Linked DNA regions of Homo sapiens: regions 2, 3 and 4 are each linked to region 1. Evidence: fine-mapped expression QTL. A gene starts in region 1. Each other region holds a variant in brackets. All regions are shown on one strand. Distances are from middle to middle.

The links. PIP is the estimated chance that this variant, and not a neighbour inherited with it, causes the effect. A credible set is the group of variants that fine-mapping cannot tell apart.
Region 2: its variant is the best candidate, but not a certain one, in a credible set for the expression of PEPD in whole blood (INTERVAL, PIP 0.90).
Region 3: its variant is the best candidate, but not a certain one, in a credible set for the expression of PEPD in anterior cingulate cortex (GTEx, PIP 0.88).
Region 4: its variant is the best candidate, but not a certain one, in a credible set for the expression of PEPD in whole blood (INTERVAL, PIP 0.69).

What each region holds. Positions count from the first base shown.
Region 1 is chr19:33,520,195-33,524,352 of GRCh38, reverse strand. It overlaps PEPD (peptidase D), which reads left to right and starts at 2,562. Exons shown (of 15, transcript NM_000285.4): 1 at 2,562-2,609. The coding sequence starts at 2,593. It overlaps LOC105372370 (a long non-coding RNA gene), which reads right to left and starts at 2,419. Exons shown (of 3, transcript XR_935918.3): 1 at 2,339-2,419; 2 at 857-932. RefSeq lists enhancers at 1,335-2,297, 2,298-3,261 and a silencer at 2,353-2,552.
Region 2 is chr19:33,445,928-33,450,085 of GRCh38, reverse strand. The region is part of intron 9 of PEPD (peptidase D); the gene reads left to right. Among named protein-coding and RNA genes, the nearest start is that of PEPD, 74 kb to the left of the region's middle. The variant G/A (reference allele first, on the strand shown) is at 2,192.
Region 3 is chr19:33,390,626-33,394,783 of GRCh38, reverse strand. PEPD (peptidase D) reads left to right here. Exons shown (of 15, transcript NM_000285.4): 13 at 3,305-3,489. Among named protein-coding and RNA genes, the nearest start is that of CEBPG, 19 kb to the right of the region's middle. RefSeq lists an enhancer at 1,509-2,273. The variant TA/A (reference allele first, on the strand shown) is at 1,868.
Region 4 is chr19:33,364,173-33,368,330 of GRCh38, reverse strand. No RefSeq gene overlaps it. Among named protein-coding and RNA genes, the nearest start is that of CEBPG, 7.5 kb to the left of the region's middle. The variant C/T (reference allele first, on the strand shown) is at 2,115.

The DNA of each region.
Region 1 (4,158 bases):
ACAAGAGGTGTCTTCCCAGGGTGAAGCTTCTTTTGCAAGGCCTGACGGGAGTTGGGGGGGCCCTTCTGGAGAATAATGCTATGCTGGCTACCGGGCTACCAGGCTGACCGAGTGCAGACATCTACCAGCCACCTGCAGGGCTTGACGAGAGGAGACTGTTTCGGCCACAAGGGCCTGTGACCTCGGAGGCAATGCCGCATGAGAGTGCTGCCTGGCGCGCTGCCTTGGCTGATTTACACACTCCCACTTCGACTCTCTAAAATCAATCTTCCCCCAATTGCCTCCTGGCTCCAGCAACGTCCTGGGTCTGCCCTGCATAAGTAACTAAATGGTCTTCTCCCATATTCTGGGCGGCTTCTGGAGCCCCTGCCACAGCCTCTGATGGGGAGGGGTGAGGGGTGAGGGGCAGCCCTGCCGGAGCCCCTGATGGGGAGGGGAGAGGGCAGGGGACCTGGGTGGGCAGGGGTCATGGGCAGTGCCTCCATATTACTGTCCACAAACAAGGGAGCTCCACTCAGTTGGTGGGTGCCTTCCTTCCATTATTTTGTGTTTGGGATATTGACTTCTTTTTCATATTAGTAAGCACTCAGAGCTGGCAGCTGGCTTAATTTTGACATATTTTATGTCAAAAGAAATGGTGGGAGGCAGGTGCAATGAATGAGCTGGGGGGTATGTTTTCCTTCCTTGAAGGCGCATGGAAAGCTCATTCTGCTCACCCTTTGTTATTATGTATTTTTTAAAGCGCCACTTACTAGGGAGTTGAGTTTCTTAAGCTGAAGGCGGACCTACTGCTTAACTAGGGGTGTTAGAAGTTCTCAGGGGCCCCTAGGCCAGGCAGTGGGGTGTGAATCCTTACCTCTGTTCTTCTTCCTGGAAACTGGCAAGAGGGTGGAGAGAGCTCCTCTTGGACCTTGCCTGGAGGTCAGGGACCCCTGCAAATTGTCCATGTGTTGTGGGAAGGGGTAGAAGGGATGAGGCCCCCCCTCTTCCATTAGCTCTCGTTTTCCTTATCTGGGACCGGGAGGTGGGAGGGGCTGTCTGGAGGGGCCACATTCCTCCTGGCAGCTTTGGTCTCTGGCTGTGCCTGCAGGTTTGAGTGTAAAACCCTCTAGCAGCCCTGTGAGGTGGCCCCATTAGCTCTCTCCTGACAGATGAGGACAGCAGGGATGGTACTGGGCTTCCAGGTAACTGTGCCACGTGCCCTTCACTACCCTGCTTATGGCTGGCTCCCTTGCTCCTATTTAAGGGGCCTATTCTCCTCCCTGCTTCATGGGGACAAACAGAAGCTGCTTCTCCAGTCATAGCCCCTGGCTCCCACCAGCCTGGCCATGGTGACCCACATCCTTGTTTCGATAAAGAAACAAGAAGCATCCCCCAACCCACAACCTTTGATCAGAAGCCACTTCCAGCTGTGGGACAGCTGCAGGGTGGGGTCAGGAGCCCCACACGCCTATCCTGGGCCACCCATCCACCTGTCCACACACATCTGTACACCACACACATCTGTACACCCTTGGCGCCAGGGACGCCCTCCCCCAACAGTGTGGGGCCCCCTTCCTTCACAGGGGCAGTGAGGTCACTCCTCAGGGTATGGCTTCATGAGCTCAGCCTCTGTGTGAGCACTCTCTGGCCTCAGTTTCCTCATCTGTATAATAGACTTAAAGATAGTCTCGACCTCATAGGGCTGTGGTGAGGTTTCTATGAGCTCACATGTGCAACGCATTTGGGCCGTGCTTGTAATGCCCTGACTCTGTTGGCAGTAGGGAGGGCAGCGTCTGCTGCAGGGTCCCTACACCTTCTCTGCAGGACTCTGCACCCAGTACCAGTGCCCAGTGGGGCAGAGGAGTAAGCCTTCTGGCAGACTCTCCCTCCTAAACCCTTCTCGGCTGTGCCCACTTCTCGCCTGCCCTCCTCCCTGGCTTCCCTTCCTCCAGCTTCTCCATTCTGCAGCCCAGGAAACCTAGAAAAGATCCTACCAGACTTAACTCATAGGCCCCACAGTGGAGGCCCCGCAGGGTCTGGCCCTTGCTTCCCTTAGGCTGCCCCTCTCTCGCGCACATTCTCCTGGACGCTGCACATTTAGAGTCCTCCAGTTGCCCCACGGCCTTTGCTCAAGCCCTTTCCCTTCTTAAACAAAAATCGCCACCTCTGCCCCGACCCTAGCCTGGGTCAGTCTCCCTCCTCTCCTCCCACGTGGTTTCTTTATTCCTATGTGTTCTTCTCCCGGGTGGGCTGGTACGCCAGATCGGGGACTGAACCAGAATCAAGATGTCCTCTGCTTCAGGACCTCCCTCCCACCACGAAAAGGCTGCAGATGCTGCCCGCTAACCCGACCTACTGTCTGCAGCCGGCAGCCCGCTCATTTATCCTGGCCGAGCTCTTGGGCCCCCAATCTCCGGGAGCCCCGCCCCATCGGGGCTCCGCCCTTCCCCAGGTACCGCCCCTTCCCGTCCCGTGGAATTTGGCTCTGGAGGAGGTGGGTCAAGGACTCCATGCCCCGCCCCCTGCCCCGCCCTTACCCCGCCCCATGCATTGGCACCCGGAGGGGCTCAGCTGACGCCGCACTTCACGTGACGCCGGTGCCGGGCGAACATGGCGGCGGCCACCGGGTGAGTGCTGCGCCTCCCTCGCTCTTTCCCGCTGGCGTGGAGAGGGGCATGGGTGTCCCGGCCGGACCGCGGGTGAGAGCGTCAGCCGGGGTCGCTGAATGCCGCGGGTAGGCGCCTCTTCCCGTTGGCCCGGAGTCCCAGCGCCGGTCGGCGAGCTGCACGCTCCGAGTCAGGGTCAGCGCGGGGGCCGCAGCTCCTCTCCACCCTCCTGGCTGGCTCCGGCCCCACCTGCCCGCGTCTGGCGGCCCCACCGTGTGCGGCTGCGGTGGGGGCTGGGGTCGACACGCATGTTCGCTGCCAAGACCCCCGGGTAGGAGGGCGGCGTTGCGAGGACCCCAGGGACCCGGGCGCTTCCCGGAGGAGGCGGTATTCGAGACGGACTTGGAATTCCCTTTTCCCAGCAGGGCACTTCCCCATTTCTTTCAGGGGCCAAATGTCACCCCCTCAGGGAATCCTTCTCTAACCATCTATCCCACTTTTTGTGCCCTCATCATCACCTGATAAACTATATAGAGCATTGTTTGTACTTGTTCTTTATCTTCTCTGCATTTAGAGTGCAAGGGCAGGTATGTTACCTGCTTCTCAGTAGCCCGGTGCCTTGCACACAGTAGGTGCTCCATACTGGGCTAAATGAAAGAAAGCTGAGTGGTCGTAGTGGGAGGAAGGGTGGACAGATGGGTTCACCAGAGCGTTGGGCGGAATCTCCCAGATAGGGAGCATCTGAGCCCAGGGTAAGGGACAAAGGTTGAGAGTTCAGAGTGTTCTGGGGACAGGGGTGCATGCCTGGGGCTGGTTGGAAGGTGTGGTGTTCCAGGTGGCGGCTTCAGACTTTGCCCTGATGGGCTGGAAGGGTTTTGTTACAAGCTGCTTGATCTGTTTTTTAAAGATTAGGCTCCCCTGAGCTATGTGTGAGTTCAATGGGAGAAGGTGTGGGTCTGGTGGTACAGTGGGGTAGAGGGGGCATGGTGTAGGAGGGAGCAGTATTCCAGATGCCAGGTTGGAAACTGAGGTCAGAATGGGGGATCTAGTGGACTGAATGCATCTCTCTTTTTAAGATACAGGGAAAATGGCAACAGAAAGTGGGTTCTAAGTTGGCCCCCAAGGTTGAGGGAGCTTAGAGCATACAAATCAAATATTTTGTGGGCACCTGCTATATTCCAGGAATAGCAGTGGGTCTTCCCTTAAGGTACTCACAGGCCACTGGAACAGATGGACACATGGGACTCTGTCATCCATCTGCTTGCCGTGTGGTCTTGCCATTTGCAAAGGAGGGGCATGGACTCTGAGCTCAGATAAAGTGTGGGAAGGCTTCACTTCCTGGGTGACTTTTGTGCTAGTCCTTCAGCAATGAGACTCCCTTCAGGTAGAGAACAGTGCAGACAAAGTCTCAGATGGGTGTCAAGGAACTCAGGGTCAGATCCTTGAATCCAGCCTGTGACCCTTTTAAAGGGTAGACTGAGCAGGCTGGTGCCCAGCTGTGGGTGTGCTGTCTCTCTGGTTAGGCTGGCTCGGTGCTCACAGGGAGTGCCAGGGGTTGCATTTGGGTTCA
Region 2 (4,158 bases), 74 kb after region 1:
AGGTGGTGCATGTGACAGATCTGCGGAGACAGAGGCAGCTTGGCCACCAGCAAGGCTGGTCTGCACACAGTGGACAGGCCAGTGGCAGTGGCCACTCCTGCACCCAAGCGGGGGCATCACATGCTCTGCTTCCTGTCTGTTACCTCCCTGGTCACTCCCAGAGGCAAGCATTCATCCCCTTGGGTCCTGCTACCTGAGACCTGTGATATAATTATTGATCATGTCACCCCGGACAGATTTCATTCCCTGGTTTCTCTGTGGCTTCCTTATCAGTTTCAGAAGGTAACGTGGCACCCGCTGGGATCGGAGCCATGCACATTGGGACACCGCCTGGGGTGGTCCCTGTGAGCACCTGCGATAGTCTATGACCGACTTCTTTCATCTGAGCAGTGAAAGCTTTCTGCATCTCAGGGTCATCTTTGAAATTCCTCCTCCTCACGTACTAGGTCTCCTGGATGTGATCCGGGGCTGTTAGCTTCCTCTCATGATGTCCACTTGCGCACCAGTGAGAAACTCAAGCCTGTCTCCCATTCTCCTGCTGTGACCCTGCACACTCGTTCTGCTGCTGTTTTCTTGTGTGCATTTTGTGGCTTGGTCCCTTCCTGTTTTGGCGCAGGCTTCTCCGGTGAGCTCTCCTCATGGATCCTGAGAAAACATGGGCTGGTGGATCTTTTTAGGTTTCCTCTCATTTTTCACCCAGGAGACCTCTCTGGCTCTTTCTGCACAGCTGGCCAAGAGCTGTCTGATTGACCCCACCATGCGGGGCTCTGCTGAAATTGCTCAGGCCCAGAAGAAAGGGGGAGGAACGGTTTAGGTTGCTTGTAGGTTCACTGTGCAAGATGGGCGACCCCAGAGGAGCTGAGGAGGGGGCTATGAGTTGCACCAGGTGGTCCAGACAGTACCGAGTCACCTCGGTGGACATGGAAGATGTCTTCTCTACAGTGGGCCAGCTACCTGGAGTTGGCTTTGGCCACACCCCCATTTGCTGCCTGCCTTCCCCCGAGGCCCCTGTGAGAGTGGACTGCAGCCTCTGGGGGCCTCTGTCCCGTCAGGGTCTTGGTTGGGGAGTGTGGGGAAACCCTGGGTCCCCACCTCTCATTCTCCAGGAAGAATTTTCTAGCAAGAGAAAGGCCAGAGTTTATATACTGGTGGCCTCTGGGCCACATCCAGTACACACGCAGTTTCCGTTTGGCCCAGGCAATAGGTATTTTAACACTTTATTTTGGTTCATTGAAGTCAACCAAATTTGAAAAATCAGATTTTTTTGGCTTTTCCTGAAAATCAGAGTAGCTGGTAACCGTGGGCTGGAATTTCCACAGAGCAGCAGCGTGGTGCTTGCTACATAGCTTTCGTTCAGGGTGCACGCCACAGGCCCCACCGCTCCCCGTCACCTCCCCGAGCACTGAAGCCGACTCTTTTCATGGCTTTCATGCTGTTGGTTCTTTCATAAATGAGAAAGCCTTCTCATACCAGCATCTCTATCAAAAGAGAAAAAAAAGATAGTCGAAAGGGTCATGTATTTCAAGAAAAATAGGAGAGCTCTGGGGAAAAAAAAAGACTTTTTTTTCTGTTTTGCATGCCACTACCTGGCCAGCTTCACTCCTGTGGGTGCCTCCAGGCCTCTGGAGCTGGTCCCCCACTCTAAAGGAGCCTTTCCTGTTCTTCCATGCCGGAAGGAGCCCGTGGTAGATGGGAGGGTGTTTAGCTGGGCAGGTGGACCAGACGCCCACCTCGGAGGTGGCTGTGTCCTGTCTGGTTCTGCCCGTGAGAAGGCGTGGCTCCAAGTCCTGGGCGCATCTAGTGAGGAGCAGCCCCGCAGGAGCAGTTATTGAGGTTTGGCTCCCAGAACAGGCAGGCAGTAGTGATTATGCTGTGAGGTTTGGTGCCGGTTTTTAGAAAATCCTCATCCAGACCTATCACCTGCTGGTGCGAAAGACGCTCCCTGCGGGAGTAATTATTCCGGGCCGTGAGTTTTTCTCCTCCTAGCTCTGAGTTCTGTGGATGACATGAATGGTTTCATCCAGGAAGGGCTGTCTCCATACCTGCCGGCAGGCATGTCTGCTCTTGAAGCCTGGAGGTAATTTATGATAAAACCAAAGTTGAGGCTCCTCCCCATCCCTGTTAGATACTCCGACAGCAGGCTCTGTGTTCCGGGGCTGTGAAGCTGAGTTTGCGTCCTCAGGAACCTCCC[G/A]CACAAGGCCATCCTCTGCCTTTGTGGTTCAGGCTGAGGGTTTGGACTCTGTCTGTGGCATGGAGGATGGGCAGTGTGGGTCTTCGTGCTTCCTCTGGCAGCTGTCCAGGAGGGAGCCATGGGCCTGGCCACAGCTGCCTTCTTCAGCTGCCCCAGAGTAGGGTGAGGAAGCATCTTGGGGGTGGCTGAGCAGGAGGGAAACTGGCCTGGCCCCACCCACTCAGCCACCGTCCTCTCGCAGCTCCCTCTGGCTGTGGATTTCTGTTGGCTTCCGTGTTACAGGTTTTGAACAGGCCTAGATGCCCAGGAGCCAGGCTGCTGGTGGGCACAGGCTCCATCCCATGTCAGTGACAGGCCTCAGACTTGGCCTGGGCTAGCACGCCCCTGCCCTGCCTGCACAAATGCTATTGTCACTGCCATGCATCCCGGGCTCCTGCACCTGCAGGAACTTGGCAGGGGGACAGCGGGAAATGGATCTGGGGTCATTGTCACTGCTGCCCACAGAACCAGCCAGCTTCCTTCATGTGAATTCCACCCTCTTGTTAGAAAAGCCCGTTTTGTGGAGGCAGAGCCCCAGGGTCCATGAGTCTGTGTCCCTCCTCACCCACAGTCATCCGGCACTGGTGCAGCAGTGTTCCCCTGGGGCCACCCTCCATGAGTGTGCCACAAGCCTTGTGGATGCACCTGTGACAGCACTTGGGGTCCCCTCATTGGTGAGTGGTGATTGCTGACCTCCATGTCTGCACCTGGGGATAGAACTCTTCCCATGTCACAACCTTCAGAAGCAGCACGGTGGCACAGGTGGCCCTCCTGGGCATCCCAGCTAGGGCGAAGTGCACCATAGCTACTTCTCCAGCCCAAGGTGACCGCAGTTCATTGCTGGAGGGCCCTGGCGGTCTAGTCCCCCACACAGCCAATGTCTGGGTGGCTGGTTGAGTCGGAGCCTGGCTGGGCTTTGCTGGTGCTGTTTTACTTTCTTACTGTCCATCCCAGCAAGATAAGAGGGGCTAGATGCCCTTCGTGGGGCCTGCTGATGGCTGTGGAGACTGGCGCATAGACTGGACAGTGGGAGGCACATCGGAAAGCCGTGGTCCTGGGACCCTATCAGCAGAGGTGGCAGAAAGGCCTCACCACCCTCGGTGCGGGGTCCTGATGCCCGCTGGGCCCTCCCCTCTGGGTGGTGAGCAGCCGTGGCTGAGAGCATGCTGCTTTTGCAAAAGGGGTCCCAGCTTCAAGGCTGGGGACCGAAGTTCCTCCTGGATGCACTGTGCAAACAGGGGACCCCTCACTTCTGCTAGGCCAGCATGTGACTGTGGGGCTCTCGGCCACCCTGTGCTGAGAGGTCGCAGAGGCTTGGGGATGGCATGGGCACCTGGTGCTGGTTGAAGCTGGGCAAGTGTCATGATCCCACGGGTGAAAAGACTCCAGAGAGTGTCCACGTGCCCGGGTGGGTCTAGGTCTTAGCAGCCAGGATGACCCGTCCGGTGAGGATGCAGCCAGTGCGTCTCTCCCCAGTGTTGGCTGATTCATAATAGGCTTTAAGCAGTCCATATATTTTCAGCATGAGCTGGAGTCTTTGAATCATTTATCTTGGCAGCTCTTCTTAAAGCTGGAGAAAGGTAGAAATTCATCTAGGTGCTGAGAAAGGAGCCCAGAAGAAAAAAGTGTCTGGCGGCTGCCGTGATGGGTGGCGTGCCTGGAGATAGTGCTGGTGGCTCCGAGATCAAACAGATGAGAAATGGCTTCCCAGGAAGAACTCGGGGAATTCTAAGTAGGTAATGAGTAGTGACTGTCTTTTGATTTACGGCAAGACTTGGCAATCAATCTGTAATGCTTTGAAGAGGAAAGAAATGAATCCCGAACAGGCTGCGGGGTCCAGGTGGTTTGGACAGGCGGCCCTTCCTTGGTGGTGGGGGCAGGGGCAGGCAGGCTAGAGGTCGTGGATTTCTCTCTTCTGCCACGGGGAA
Region 3 (4,158 bases), 130 kb after region 1:
GCATCTGGGTATAGGCTGGCTAGGGGCCGGGGGTGCCTTCCAGCCTGGACTAGAGAGCTTGACGGTGTCTCCAGGCTGCCAGGGTGGGAGGAGCCTGAGAGTGGGCCCAGGCCAGCAAGGGAACCCTCAAGTTGGTGCCCACCCTGCCAGCCTAGTGCAAGGACAGTGACCCTCACACACTCCAGGGGCCCCCGCCCAGGCGGTGGGTGTCGTAACCACCATCCGGGCCAGAGGCTGGGGCCAAGTTGCTGGAGGTTGAATCACTGTCACAACCCTAACCACACACAGGCAGAAACTCCCTGCTCCCGGCCAAGAGAGCTGTGTGCAAGGCCTTCCCCGAGGGTGCACAGGCAAGGAAGACCAGCGGCGCCAAGGGGACCCCCGGGCCGGCACATCTGGGCGGCGCCGGGCCTGCCCCCGGGAAGGGCCACCGCAGAGCATGATTTATACCTGATTCCCGCCCTCTGCGGAGGCTGGGCCAAGAACGTAGCCCACTGCTGAAGTTAGCCTGGTTGGAAAGCTGGCTGCACTTCCCGGGGCTCCCCTTTGGTGACCAGAGAAGGGCGCGTCCGAGAGGAAGCAGTTGAGCTGGGCTTGGGGCACGAGCCACTCACAGGAGGCCTCCCAGCCCCATGTGCCAACTTTGCAGGCTGTTGGGAGACCTGAGGGGCACTCACTTTATGCCAGGCCCAGCGGTGCCCTCGGGAGACCCCCACCCTCGGAGTGAGACATGAGAAGCAAACGAGCAGATCCGTCCAGGGGACGGCTGCAGGCTGGATGGACCGTGCAAGGAGAAATCACCAGGCCTGGGACAGCAAGGCAGGAAGGTCTCCTCTGAGAGGGGACAGCTTTTATGCAGAGACCCCTTGGATGAGGCATCACAGGTCAAGGCCTGGCACAGGCCATAGCAAAGGGCCTGAGGTAAAACGGCCTGTGTGCCTTGGGGTGGTCTGGCCTCTGGAGGATGCAGCAGCAGAGAGGAAGGGCGAGGTGGGCCAGGATTGTCCGGGCTGGGTTCTCAGAGAAGAGCAGCAGCAGAGGCTGGGCAGGCTTGGCGCACACCCCCAGGAACAAGTGAATGTCAAGTGTGGAACCAGGGCTGGCTGGTCATGCGCGATGGAGGAATGGTGGCCAATGCCACTGTCCGGGGTGCTGCCTCCAGCCCCCAGGTGACACAGAGGCTCTGAGAGCAACCCCCCGGGGCCTGCCTTGTGGCTGTTTGTTTGTTTGACCAGCGGCAGCTGAGGCTCACGGAGGTGGGGCTGTTTGACCAGCGGCAGCTGAGGCTCACGGAGGCGGGGGAGCGGCCAAGTGGGCTGCAGTTATCCAGGTGTCCTTTTCCGGGATGTTGTGCCCCTCAGAAAAGCCAGGGGTGCGGGCTGGGCCAGCCAGGGGTGTGTGTGCCCAGGGCTGCCCCAGATACAGGGCAGCTGCAGCCAGAGTTGCCCCAGGTCTGCCCGGGCTCTCCCCCACGCCAGACCCCGGGCTCTCCCCCACGCCAGACCCCAGACCCCGGGCCCTCCCCCACGCCAGACCCCAGACCCCAGACCCCGGGACGGCCTCCCCGACGCCAGACCCCAGACCCCGGGACGGCCTCCCCCACGCCAGACCCCAGACCCCGGGACGGCCGCCCCCACCTCAGCCCCTAGGAGGCTGGGCTGATGGGGAGCTGGGCTCTGAGGAGGATCCCTGCTCTGTGTGGGGGGTGGGGGCAGGTCTGGGCATCTCCACCCCTGCCACCCTTAGGCTGCTGCCGTGGCTGGGGCGCTGTGCTGTGAATGGCGGGCAACAGCCATACTGCCTGCCCAAAGCCGTGCACCCCCAGCCCGCCTGAGACCCCAGCACCACAGTGGCCAACTCTGGCACT[TA/A]AAGGGGTCCCAACATGAAGGACTTGTGCCCAGTGTGTCGGGGGTGATGGCCTGTGTCCCAGTGTGGACTCTCATCCCTGTTCGCCAGCCGAGCCCATCATCTGCCCTCCGCCAGCCACAGAGGTTCAGAACCCTGCTTCTCACAGCCCAGCCCTCGCCAGCTCAGGGTCTCCCCGGCCCCTCCCACAGCAGTGATCGGGACCATGCAGAGCAGGCTCTGGCTCTGCGCCAAGGCAAGCCTGGCAGGGAGGCCCTCGGGAGCCAAGGTCACTCCGCCTGGTGGGGCTGGACCTCTCCAGGAGGTGCCGCAGGGACTTGCTGGGCGCCCTCTCCAGCCAGTGAGCTGCACATTGATAGGGGCCCCCCGCCACGTGCCTGGCCAGAGTGTCCTGGGGCCCCGGCCTCTGCCAGCACGTGGCCTGCCCAAACCCAGCCCCCATGGGGCCAGGGCAGGAGGCCTCACCGGCCTCGAGTCCTTATCTGGTGCTCAAGCCAAGTCCAGCAGTGGAAGCTACCATGAGGAGAGGCTGATGCTGGGATTCCACAGAGTCCGGGGATGGGACGGGCGCACCCGTGGGCTGCTGAGGCTCTACGTGGAGAGCTCTCTAAGGGCCTCCTTCCTAGCGGCCATGCTCCAGAGCCCCACAGAGCCTGTGTGGCCCCCAAAGCTCTGTGCTTAGGAAGTTCTCTCTTTGGTGGCCTTTGCCCCACAAACATGCGGCAGAGATGAGTTGGATTTGAAGCCGGGAGTTGGACATCTGGCTCCCCTGGAGATGGTGCCCCTGCTGTTGGCAGGCGGGGCCCCGAACCCCTGCCAGCCAGCTCGTGGGGCCGTGCCAGCCGCACCTTCTCCCCAGAAACCTTTGCTCCCTGCAGCAGCTCCAGGGGTGTTTCATCCCCATTCTGGGATGTGCAGGGACCCCTCTTTTCAGCCTCGGGCTTCCCCACTGCACCACAGCAGCAAAACCCCATCGGAGCTCTGAGCCAGGGTTTGGGTCTGAGCCTCAGGGCCAGAGCCCACAGAGTCTCCTGGTGTCTGCTACTGGGGAGACGTGCATGTTTCTCCTGGTGCCCAGGGATTTGGCTAGGTTTCCCTGGGCCCAGAAGCATAGGCTGTTCAGGGTGGACACACCATGGGCTACAGAGTAGACCCAGGCTGGGCCCTTGGCTACAGGTGACAGGAACCTGCCCCTAGAGGCAGAATGGAGGGACAAGAAGGGTCCCGAGGGCCAGAGCTTTTGCTGGGAAAGCCCAGCACGGGGGGCCACCCTAGTCCTTGTCCCCCTGGGCCCCCGATGTAGTACCCTTGCCCCCTCACCCCCCACCTCAGGCCCTCCCACCACAGCCAGTGTGAGGGCTTCACATCTCCCAGCCCCTGGCCCTGCGGTGTTGGCTGCTGGGCTCTGTGGCTCACGGCAGCTCCCTCTGGCCCACAGGTGTCTGGTGGCCTGACATGCACCGCCTGGCTGACCGCATCCACCTGGAGGAGCTGGCCCACATGGGCATCCTGAGCGGCAGCGTGGACGCCATGGTCCAGGCTCACCTGGGGGCCGTGTTTATGCCTCACGGGCTTGGCCACTTCCTGGGCATTGACGTGCACGACGTGGGAGGCTACCCAGAGGTCAGTGTGGACATGGCAGGCGGAGTGGCCTGCCCATCAGCTGCCGCTGAGCCTGACCCCCAGGGCAGGGTGGGACTCTAGGAGGCAGCAGGCGTGTATTGGGATGGCAGGGATGGGCCCCATGGCTCCCTGTGGTATACGGAGGCCATGAGGAGGGGGGAATCGGGACCCTGGCCAAGACAGGGGTGCATCTGTGAGCATTCCACAGAACTGGACATAGAGGCGGTGCTGTCTGCCTGCTGGGCCCAGGTGTCACCTGTCCAGAAGGTGGCACACAGTCAGGATACGGTGCATGGGGCCCCACAGGACAGTGGTGCTAAGGACAGGTCTTCGTGATGGAGCTACGTGGCACCCCTCACGTCCTGCCGCCTCTGGCTTCATTCAGACCTGGGGCGTGGGGAGTTGATGAGGCCCCACCCACTGGCGACTCACCCTGGCCCCTCACAAACCCGGAGCAGCCCTGCTCTGCCGCTGGTTCGCCCTCTCCTCCCAGGCCCCTGGGCCGCACACCTGGGACCCTGCAGCCTCCTCATCCCCAGGCATTCTGGGGCCCGTTGGCAGATAAGGGAGGCTGGGGGCCATCTCCAGACAAGGTTCCCCGGCCCTCAGAGGACCACCCAGAGGGTAAGTGAGGCTTGGGGAGGCCCAACCGGGCAGGTGGCTACGGCC
Region 4 (4,158 bases), 160 kb after region 1:
TGGCAGGGGCTGATCTCGGAGGAAAAAGAAGTGCTGGGCAGACAAACCCATCAATAGGCATTTCAAGTGGCAGATCACACTGTGGTCGCTCTGATGGAAGCCTTACTCACCCTGGCTGACTAATCTGTTCTTTCTTGTGTGATATGATCCCCATGCTTGAGGGCAAAATGTAAACCTCCAGTTTTATCTCTGGAAGCACTGTTTGAAATCCTAACAGCTGTGATGCTAAGTGTTTGTCTTAGAACATACCCACATCTCATAAGGGAGTCCTATGGATGATAGCAAAAAATCTGACACGGTCTAAGCTTGAGCAGTTGGCAAGTACTGTGAATGTCCATTCTAAAGCACTTTTCAGTTTGTCAGATTTCATTATTCCATGAGTTGAGACACATCATCTGTCTTAAGGATAAGTACATGTCATCTCTGCACACAAAGGTATGTGAGCACATGCAAATAGGTACATATCACCTGCACACATGAGGAGAGCTGCATGCATCTGTGCACACACAGGTGGCTGTCATCTTTGCACATAAGGAGAGATGTGTGCCATCTGGGATCACTTGAGGCCAGGAATTCGAGACCAGCCTGGGCAACATGGCAAAACCCCATCTCTACTAAAAATACAAAAATTAGCCCGGCATGGTGACACACGCCTGTAATCCCAGCTACTTGGGAGGCTGAGGCAGGAGAATGGCGTGAACCCAGGAGGCAGAGGTTGCAGTGAGCTGAGATAGCGCCACTGCACTCCAGCCTGGGTGACAGAGCGAGAATCTGTCTCAAAAAAAAAAAAAAAAAAAAAACATGGTGTTTGTGAGGTATGTGACACCAGTCTTTATCAAGGCAGTGTGATGGGCTTTGGAGACAGAACAGAGTGGTGTTGGCTAGCACTCAACCCAGCTACACCTCCAGTCCTCATCTGGGGAGGATTGACAGTAAATATTTCATAGAATTGTTATGAGGATTAAGTAAACCAACATGAAAAGGAGCTAGCATAGTGCCTGGCACATAGGAGGCACAAAATAACTGTTTTCTAGTGTGTCCATCCAAGAATAATTTGCTACCTAGGAGCCTGTTGTTGGTTTCCAATACTATTCTCCAATAACAGGAGCCGGCTCCTTACAGAAGTGGCTGATTCTAGGGCTGGGGCAGGAAATATACAAGGTGAGCCTGGAACATCTTGCAGTGCCAGAAAGTAAGGAAGTCCTCAGAAAGTGAAGCAATTGGGGAGGTGTGTCTCAGTCAGCTGAGGCTGCCATGACAAAATACCATAGACTTGAGGGCGTAAACAACACAACTTTGTTTCTCATGGTCCGGAGGCTGGGAAGTCCAAGATCAAGGTGCTGGCGAGGTAAATTTTACTCTGAAGCCTCTTTTCTTGGCATGGAGGTAGCTGCAATATCCCCGTGTGCTCACATGATCTCTTCTTTGTGCACTTGTTGGGGAGTCTGTGTGGGGAGAGACCGAATTCTCCAGCATGTCTTCATATAAGGGTACTAATCCCATCCCGAGTGCCCCACCCCATGACCTCATCTTAACCTTGATTACCTCCCAAAGACCCCATCTCCAAATATCATCACATGTGGGGCAGGGCTTCAACATATGAATTTGGGGAGACATAAACATTCCATCCATAAGACTATATCAAAGGGCCACAGGAGCCAAATGAAAGTGCCCCCAGTGCCCAAAGCTGGAACTATTTGAGTGGCAAAACAAATAACGTAGTATTGGATTATAACCCAAAGTATGAGATGAATATCCATGAGTCCCTACGGATGTTAATAAATGATGGAATAAATGTATAAATGACAGAGAAGAGGCAAATCTCCCATGCAGAACTCAAAATAATTGATAGTCTGCCCTCAGGCTGGAGAGCTACACTCCCTGATTCTTAACTGTGGGCTACACAGTGACTTCCTTTCGAAGCGTAGAATATGGAGGAGAAGAAAGAGTAACTTTATGGTGCAGAAACCTGACAAAGACTAGCAGGTGATCGAAGTCCACATCAGCAGTCATAAACCGTGTTGATAGCAAGTATCCTTGATAAGATAAGATGAAAATGGCCCTTTACCCTTTGGTCTTCCTCCTGAGAACTCATAACCCCAGTCTAAGAAAAA[C/T]ACCAAATTCCAATAGAGCAGCATTTTGTAAAATACCTACCTAAGACTTCGCAAAACCGTCAAGATCATCAAAACAAGGAAAGTCAGACAAAGTATCACAGTCTAGAGCAGCAGTCCCCAATCTTTTTGGCAAGAGGGACCAATTTCATGGACGACAGTTTTTCCACAGATAGGGAGCAGGAGGGGAGGAGAGATCATTTCGGGATGCAACTGTCCTACCTCAGATCATCAGGCATTAGAGTCTTATAAGGAGCGTGCAACCTGGATCCCTTGTATGCACAGTTCACGATAGGGTTTGTGCTCCTGTGCGAGTCTAATGCCGCTGCTGATAAGACAGGAGGCAGAGTTCAGGCAGTAACTTTTGCTCACCTGCCACTCATCTCCTGCTGGGCAGCCCGGTTGCTAATGGGTCTGTGGCTCAGGAAATAGGGACACCTGGTCTAGAGGATCCTAAAGAGACATGATGACTAAATGTGATGTGGTATCCTAGATGGGATCCTGAAACAGAAAGAGGATATTAGAAACTAAGGAAATCCAGATTTGAAGTACGGGCAATATTTAATAATGGACTTCAATTAATGATAATGTATCAATATATCTTCGTTAACTATAACAAATATATGAATGTAAGGTGTTAGTAATAGGTGAAACTGGGAAATCTATACCTCCTTCTCAATTTTTTATAAATCTTAAGTTGTTTTGAGTCATGCACAGTGCCTGTAATCCTAGCACTTTGGGAGGCTGAGGTGGGAGGATTGCTTGAGGTCAAGTTTGAGACCAGCCTGGCCAACATAGTGAGGCCCCATCTCTACAAAAAAAAATTAAAAATTAGCCGAGCATGGGCGTGTGCCTGTGGTCCCAGCTACTTGGAAGACTGAGGCGGGAGGGTGGCTTGAGCCTAGAAGGTCGAGGCTACAGTGAGCTGCGATAGTGCCATCCCACTCCAACCTGGGCAACAGACCGAGACCCTATCTCTTACAATAATTAATTAAAAATAAAATAGTTCTGAGAAATTTTTTTAAGTATTTGGGATGCATTGCAGTCTTAACATTAACCTAAAACAGTACTGTTTTAAAACATTAACAACCCAGGCCAGATTTTAGCCAAATGGGTAAAGAAGAAAGCAGCAGAAGAGCCTCAGGCCCCACTCCCTCCCTCAGTCCACGAGCGGTGACTGTGCTTCTGCCAGGCAAACCCAAATCATGCAGAGAAATGGAGCAGAGAGGGAGAGTAGATCTACAGGAGCTCCTCCAGGAGGAGAGAGGGATAGAAAGAAGGAAGGGGAGGTGGAGGGGTCCACTTTGAGACTGCAGGGTGACGGAGAAGCCCAGGACACCATTTTTGGGTCTAGTGGGGAAGCCCCATCCTCCGCTGAAGGTCCAAACACCAGGTCAACCCCTGGAAGCCACAAGACTGAGCTGAGAAGGAAATGAGAAGCTTCCCAGACAGAGGGACATGGTTGTCCCTGGCACTCATTCTCCTATTCTCTTTCATCTGTCTCAGTCAATAGATGTTGATTGAATTCCTGCTCTGAGCCAGGCCCTGTCCCAAGTTCTGGGAGTCCTGTGAGGACCAAGCCAAGGGGCTGGAGAAGGGGGCAGGGGGGAGCTGGTGCCCAACAGATGAGACAGGGCCAAGGAGACACAGCCAGGCCAGGTGGGCTTGTGGCCTAGAATCCCTGTGCTTAGCGTCAGGAATCTGCGTCCACTCCTAGGCCGCCGTGACTGCTCCTTTTTCATCTTATTTTTCGTTTAGATTCCCACGGTAATAATCAGTTCCTGTGTCAGCCTCAACTGGGATTCATATTGACTTGGGTTTAGCAGGTGGAGTCGCCAGTCTATTTGCATAAATGTTGGGGTTTTGGCTGGAAGAGGAAGGTGGGGTTGTTGTCTTTCCTTTGCAGAGGTTTCTGGGGGGGAACTGAGGTGCAGAAGAAACTGGGATTTGGGGAGAGACAAGTGCTGTTTTGTAGTCCTTACAAAGAGAGTGACTTTCCCCCCGACCTCCGTGAACGATCCCCTGTGCCTTCAGCCAAGTGGGAACT